Linked DNA regions of Homo sapiens. The protein of the gene in region 1 purifies or fractionates together with the protein of each later gene. This does not show direct contact. Each region holds a gene or a part of one and is shown on either strand. Other genes may lie near its edges. The genes, in order: IGSF6 and CWC27.

Evidence for each region.
Region 2: the proteins of IGSF6 (region 1) and CWC27 purify together in Homo sapiens (affinity purification with mass spectrometry; 2 studies listed by BioGRID and IntAct, with this or other methods). This does not show direct contact.

Annotation. Positions count from the first base shown.
Region 1 is NC_000016.10:21,645,871-21,649,698, reverse strand, and holds part of IGSF6 (immunoglobulin superfamily member 6 precursor), read left to right. Parts: intron 1-2,206; coding exon 2,207-2,566; exon of another isoform or gene 2,567-2,767; intron 2,768-3,828.
Region 2 is NC_000005.10:64,775,276-64,779,103, forward strand, and holds part of CWC27 (spliceosome-associated protein CWC27 homolog), read left to right. Parts: intron 1-3,828. UniProt on the Homo sapiens protein: As part of the spliceosome, plays a role in pre-mRNA splicing. Probable inactive PPIase with no peptidyl-prolyl cis-trans isomerase activity. As a component of the minor spliceosome, involved in the splicing of U12-type introns in pre-mRNAs.

The DNA.
Region 1 (3,828 bases):
GAATCGTCCACTTTTTAAAAATAATTTTACAAATAAAAATAAAAACATTATCTGAAAGATGACTTGAGACTGAGACAGTGCTTAACTTTGCTAAGTTTTGGCAGACCCAATTCCATTTTAAATTTCCACTCAGTATATACTATAAAATGTTTCACTGTACTTGTAAGGTGCTTGAGTCTGGGCAGGAGACATGAGGTTGTATTTCTCAGACTTGAGAGGGAATCCAATCCCCTTGGCTGGAGATGGAGCTGAGCTGGGCCTCCCACAGACACGAAGCTCAGAGAAGCTTGCAGGCCTCCTCCAGGTGACTGCACCCTCTTGTCTGGTTTGCATTTATCAGGTCACCACAGAGCTCCCAGCTCATCTCATGTTGCACAAATACTAAAATATAACATGATGAGAAGAGAGCAAGGCGCAGTGGCTCACACCTGTAATCCCAGCACTTTGGAAGGCCGAGGCAAGCGGGTCGCTTGAGTTTAGGGGTGCAAGATCAGCCTAGGTAACAAGGTGAAACCCTGTCTCTACAAAAAATACAAAAATTAGCTGGGCACAGTGCTGCAGGCCTACAGTCCCAGCTACTTTTGAGAAGCTAAGGCAGGATGATGGCTTGAACCTGGGAGGTCACAGTTGCAGTGTGCCGTGATTGCACCATTGCACTCCAGCCTGGGAGACAGAGACTCTGTCCAAAAACAATAACAAAAATGAAAACAAAAACAAAAAAACATGGTGAGAAGAGACTCGCATCACAAACGCCATGATTCTAACTTTAATTCCTCTGCTGTTATGAATGGGGATCCATAAGAGAAACGCTAAGAGAAAAAAGCCCCTGTCTGAAAATTAAGCATCAGACCACTTGGATGACTTTTCAGTTTCATTTACAGTAGCAAAGGACAAACTCACACAAATAGGACCATTTGGGAATATATGACCAGGCGGAACTCAGACCAAAAACTTGACAAATTCCAATTTGTCTCAACCAATACTATTTTACCTATGGCCTCCCCTGCCGCAAAAGAAGGGTTTAGGGCGGGTCTTTCCATTTGTGCACTCGAGTGGCTTTCCAGCTTCACATGCCTGGGATATAAAGGCCAAGGTGGGGGACTCAATCCTCATAACTTGGAAGAGCACCACATGGTGGACAGTACACTGGAGTGGGTGACTAATCCCAGCTCTGTGAACACCTTGTGGCTAGACGTCCACAACCATCTCTCCAACAGCCATCTGACACTGTGGGAACAGTAGCAGTGGCGGCTGCAGCAGCAATCGCTCCCTTGTATTTAATACTTACTATAGCTTAGGCAGGTAAACACTTCCTAGGCATCATCTTGAACGTCACACTAACTGCATGAGGTCAACAATACTATCCCCATTTTCTAATGAGGAAACTGAGATACTGAGATTATAATGCTGGGAACAGGCAGAGCTAGGATTTGAACTCAAGTCTGTGCTCTTTATCACAATATTGTTAATTAAATAAGATAAATGCTACAAGGGCCTACAAAGCAGCACACACGCCAGGGAGAAACCAAATCTGCTTAGCTATGGCCTGGCGAGCTCATATGGTCCCTGCTCAGTAATCAAAGACATGGTAGGCTAAGCCAGGGCTGCATTTCCACAGGTGTACATGTTGCCTTTTATCATGTTTCCCAAAGGGACACCAGGCTCACAAAGAAACAATTGTGAATGGCCATGAATTCCTGGCGATCTCAACTCCCACAAAGCACAAACATCGCTGCTGCTCATAGGCTCCATCAGCGGCAGCAACGTTCGTCTGGGGACACAGGTTACCACACTGAACACAGCACTCTGGGGAGGCCAGGGTGCGGACAAGAAAGCAGGCAGGAGATTAAGTGATTGGATCGAAGGAAAGCTTGTAAGGAGCAAGAGTCACAGATGGACCCCAAACTTCTGAGTCCAATACGGTGCCACCTCTATGCAGGCCTCCTGCACAGGGACTCTGTTCCCCTGAAGCCTCTCTAGGGCTGGCCTCCAGTGAACAGACATCATGTGACCCAGCAGGTCAAGGTCAGAAAACAGGAGGAGTTGGGGCAAGTGAGGACCACTGGTGTTTATTTTTAGTCTTATTTATATTGGGATTAAGGTAAGAAAAATAACAGAATGGCTGGGTTTCCTACCTCAAAAATATAATAAAAGCACAAAGTGAGGTGGCAGGCCCATTAACCCACTCATCTGCTTCCTCCCACAGGTGCTGTGGGCGCCTGTACTCTCTCTGTCACACAACCGTGGTACCTAGAAGTGGACTACACTCATGAGGCCGTCACCATAAAGTGTACCTTCTCCGCAACCGGATGCCCTTCTGAGCAACCAACATGCCTGTGGTTTCGCTACGGTGCTCACCAGCCTGAGAACCTGTGCTTGGACGGGTGCAAAAGTGAGGCAGACAAGTTCACAGTGAGGGAGGCCCTCAAAGAAAACCAAGTTTCCCTCACTGTAAACAGAGTGACTTCAAATGACAGTGCAATTTACATCTGTGGAATAGCATTCCCCAGTGTGCCGGAAGCGAGAGCTAAACAGACAGGAGGAGGGACCACACTGGTGGTAAGAGGTCAGTCAGCGAGGCTTTATTTCAGTGCATCATTGCATCTTGTTCAGGCCTGTAAAATCATTACCTCACTCACATGTAGAAATCAGGAGATAAATTTGCTAAGTTAATACCCTAGCCAGTGATGGGTGTGATCTGAACACAAGTCACCATGAGGTTTGGACTAAAGAACTACTCCAACTGGCTGGGCGTGGTGGCTCACACCTGTAATCCCAGCACTTTGAGGCTGAGGTGGACGAATCACTTGAGGTCAGGAGTTCAAGACTAGCCTGGCCAACATGGTGAAACCCCATCTCTACTCAAAATACAAAAATTAGCCGCGCATGGTGGCATGCACCTGTAGTCCCAGCTGCTTGGGAGGTTGAGGCAGGAGAATCGCTTGTAACCCAGGAGGCGAAGGTTGCAGTGAACCGAGATCGCACTACTGCACTCCAGTCTGGGCAACAAAGCAAGACTCCATCTCAGAAAAACAAAAGAACTACTCCAATCCATCTCGAACATCCACTAACACAAAGTCAGTGATTTGCTGGGTGCTCTATTCTCCCTACATGGTGATGTTTAACCAACCATGTTCACCTCTTTTGTATATTACAGTGATTTAGTGTAAAGTACCATGTCCAAAGGGAACCTTGTGGTGAGTAACTATCAGCTTTCTCAGGAACTAGTCTGGTAATGCACCACCTAGAACAAAGCACTAGAGAAGTGTAAAAGATCAATAAATTGGACCCACAGAAACTATGCAACATGGAGAATAAGCACAGATTTGGAGAGAAGCTACTCAGGGATCCCTGACCCTTCCCATTCTGCCTGGACATCAGTGAACGGAAAGTGATGACTCTCACTTCCTGAGATTTGATAAAACCCATGACAATTCCTCAGCCGAGCGAGGACATCAAACATAGCTAAATCCTATCAGTAATTTCACCAAGTCATTCCCTTGAGTAAACTGAGATTAAGACATTCCCGAGAAAAAAAAAGGGGGAATTTCAGAGAAAAAGCTTTACATGATTCTGAAGGAAAAAAGAGAACAGCAGCAACTCCTCGCCTTGTTGGGGTCTCTTCCCTTAGGAAGGACCCTGGTATGATGAGCAGAGATTGTTAAAACATGAACTCAAAATCAACCAGCCCTTCGATTTCAAAATAGGACTCTGAGGAAGGGAGACCATCCAGTATTATAACCTGTGCTTTTAAACTACGAGGGTTCTAATGGGCTTTTGATATTCAAATGTCATTTAACCTTAGTTTATTCTCATCTGTCAGCTAAA
Region 2 (3,828 bases), on another chromosome or scaffold:
CAATTTCTTCCCCAGTCTGCCTTTCACCTGTATGACTGTAATTGCCTCTTGCCTGCTCCCCTTCCTGTCTTTCATCCTTAATTTCTTTTCTCTCTTCCTTGTTTATATGGTATTTGAATCCTCAGGCAGCTTGGCTTCCTAGCTATCCAACTTTCTAGCTCATTGCACTAACCACATGGTTTTAGTTGGACATTATTTCCTAAGCATTTCCTTTCCGTTTCCACTTTCATACATGTCCTCATACTAGTTCCCCTTCTTTTGGTATGCTTTTTCTTCCCTTTTTTTACTGTTTAAGTCTACCCATTTTTAAATGTCTGTTCAAAATTCTAGTTTCTCCACACAGCCTTCCAGCTAGCATCCAGTGATATTATTATCAATGTCTCTAGTTTTTTTAGATTTGAGTCATAAAGTAACTATTTTTCTTTTTTTAAAATGCTGCAGAATTATACATCCACTGAAGTGTTTTTCCCTGCAGAGTATTCTCTTAGGGAAGTAAACCTTCCATTTTTAGAGCTTTTTGTTGGCTTCTAGAATACATTACATATGGTTTGGAATATCTCCAGCGGTGGCAAATCATTGTTCTTCTAAGTTATATTTGATTTTTAGAGACAGTTTTATTCAAGGTATCAGAAAACAACATTTTGGGTCAGAAGCAAGGTGTGAAAGAGAATCCAGTAGTATGGTATGATGAGATCTCTCTAAATAGACGTAATTATCAGGTGAAGATTTAAGAAATGAAAAATACCCAGATACCACCCCCTCTCCAAAAGAGAGAGGTGGGGAGGAGTGGAGCGAGAGAGAGAGAGAGAGAGAGAGAGAGAGAGAGAGAGAGAGAGAGAGAGAGAGAATGAAAGGACATCTGCAAAGACCATTATTAATAATTGCTGTGGCAGGCAGGAAGGAAATAGAGTCAGGTAGGTAGTTCAGTCAGAGAGGCCTCAAATATCTGTTAACCAAGTTGAGAAACACAGGAGACATGAAAAAGTCAGACTTGTTTCTGGTAAGAAGTTTTGAAGATTCAAAAGCTCAAGTTTTACAGAAGGAGAGTAAAATTACAAAAACATTAGAAAGAATGAATGGTAAATTGCAATCCATGACCAGGTGAATGGAAGAAGCAGAAAACATCTGGATACAATGTGACAGTGAAGAAGAAATGAGGTTCTTAAGTTGGGTGATGATAAAACTCAATTATTACAACAATTATTCCCCTATTTATAATAATGCAAGGAGAAAGAAGAAAGAATAGAAAAATAATTTTAAAAATAACCACAACAATTATCTTAATCAAATTCACCAATCCTCTTAATTGAATAGAGATAGAATTATTATTGGAAAGGCTAACATGAAGCCTAAGAAGACTGATTTAAACAAGGATACTCCTAAATAAGTTAAGTCAAGGTTTCAAAAATATAATCCAGAAAACCCCATTTTAGTTCTTTGCTTCTATGATTTAGACGAGTCATAATGTTTCTAGATCTTGAAACACTCATATTTATTTTTTTAAAGCATGGTTTCCAGAATTTAAAAGCAAATGAATAAAACATGAACAAGTAAGAGCGCAGTCTCAGATATGGCCCTCAACTAAAATGATGTTCATAGCCAAAGGATGGTTTATAGCCTTTAAAAAACCAAAGGATCTACATTATACAGACTTAATCTTAGATTTTTGGTCTTTGCAGCATAGTTAGGTGGACATTTAAAATGAGTGGAACTTTTAAAAACTTATCAATTAAAAAATAGAGCAAAAAAGATATAAAGGAATGAAAGGGAAGCTTATTAGCTTTGATAATTTCATTAGTTCCTCCAGTGTGAGGAAGGAGTATAATTTTATGTTTGTTTTATAGACAAGTGGGGAGCAGAGGGAGAAGTGGATAAGAAAATCAAAATGTTTAATACATTGTGTGACTACTAATCTCTTCACCTTTATTTCACATCATTCTTGTCTCATCATGGTCCACACTTCATTGCTTATCTTTTATTCTTTAATAATAGTTTACTAATTCTTTAGAGTGACAAATATAAGCATAAATATGCTATAAGTTAAAAGAAATTTCTTTACAAAACTAAAATATTTGTTTAAAAAAATACCAGATAGTGCAGACTGGTCGCAAGATGAGTGTTAGATAAAAAGTTATTAATGATAACATTTACATAGTTAAACACAAAACAGGATTCTAGAAGAAGAAACGTATAACTACTTTAAAGTGCAAGTATAAATTCCTCTATGAACTTGGGCAAGAAATATAATTAGTCAAAATATATGATAATGCCCATAGATTATTGTAGCCAGAAATAGAAACCATGTGACAAATACTAGAATGACAGCAATCAAATAGGAACTTTGTTTCATATTTAAGATACATTTAGGTATCTTTTTTCAATAGTGGAGAACATTCAGGAGGATATTATGAACGTGCATAATGAAATAATAAAGCTTTTTCAAAACACTTGTGATGATGCATAAAAATTTAAGAAAATCAAATAAACATTGCAAGCAGCAAAATATACAGTATTATAAACTATAAATACAACTATAAATGCATAGTTCAATAGTGATTACTAATAAATTACAAAGAAGTAGAAATAGTAGATATGGAAGATTTGTGGACATTGGAAATTCCAGCTATGTTAGAATACAAAGTTATAGTGTAGAGAGTATAGAAAATTTTTACTCATTTATATATAGTATAATAATTTCATGCATTCAACAGGAATATAACTAGGAAAATCATAAAGAAAATCTTAAAATAAAAAGCCAGCATCACTGAAATACTTAATGGGAAATAGGAAAAAGAAAGAAAATGGTGAAATTCTAAAATTTGAAAACACAAGTAATAAAGACCTCTTTCATGTCCTTTTTCCGTCACAGGTAACATATATCTGGGTTTTATGGATCTTGCTTCATAAGTAGTTCTTGAATCTGTGTATCTCAAGATAAGCCATAGTTATGTAATGACCTCAGGATAGTAGTTGCTTGCTTGCATTCTCTCACTGGCTCTCTGTCGCATGCACTTGCGCTGTCTCTTGCTTTCTTTCTCTCTCTCTCTCTCACTCCCCCTCTCTCTCCAGTCATGTCTCTTTCTAATATATTCACACTGGGTAAGAGTGACATTTTGAAAATGCAAATCTGATCATGTGCACAGTGCTCAAAAAGTATTGGTTGGCTGCTTATTATGGGTCTAGATGAATATTCATTATATGATATATACTGGGGTATATTTTATATTCAAATTTGAATATGAATTTGTAGCATTTGAGTGAAGATATTAGTTTGACCTCACATTTGTGTTGAACTTGAAAATGTGTAGTTTGCTTTCATATTATTTAATCTTCAGATTGACACTGTGCCTTAATTTATGTTATTAGATTTATGAGAAAATGGAGTTTAAGACTGTATAGCTAGCAAAAGGCAAGACTCAAACTCCTGACTGCTACATACAGTGTTAGTGTAACTGATGAAATGGTTACCTAGGAATATAGGAGAGATACTTTAAGACCTTTTGGTTTTTATAGTATCTATTTGTAACCAGAGGGAATTTGTCTGCACTAGGGAGCTCTTGTAAATGCAGCCCAACTGCCCTGCAATGGGAGAAGGGACTAAGCAAAAATCAGCTGGTCTTCCTTTCTACTTCTTATGTACTGTGTACTAAATACAGTTGTTAGAATACAGATTATAATTTTTAAAATATGCATTGTATATCCAGTTATACTTTGCAAATATAAATAATTATGAGGGTGTCTCCAAGACACTAAAATAGGAACTTTATAAATTATGTCAGTAACTGTATCAGTAAAATGCCTGGCCCACAGTAGATACTTGATAAATAT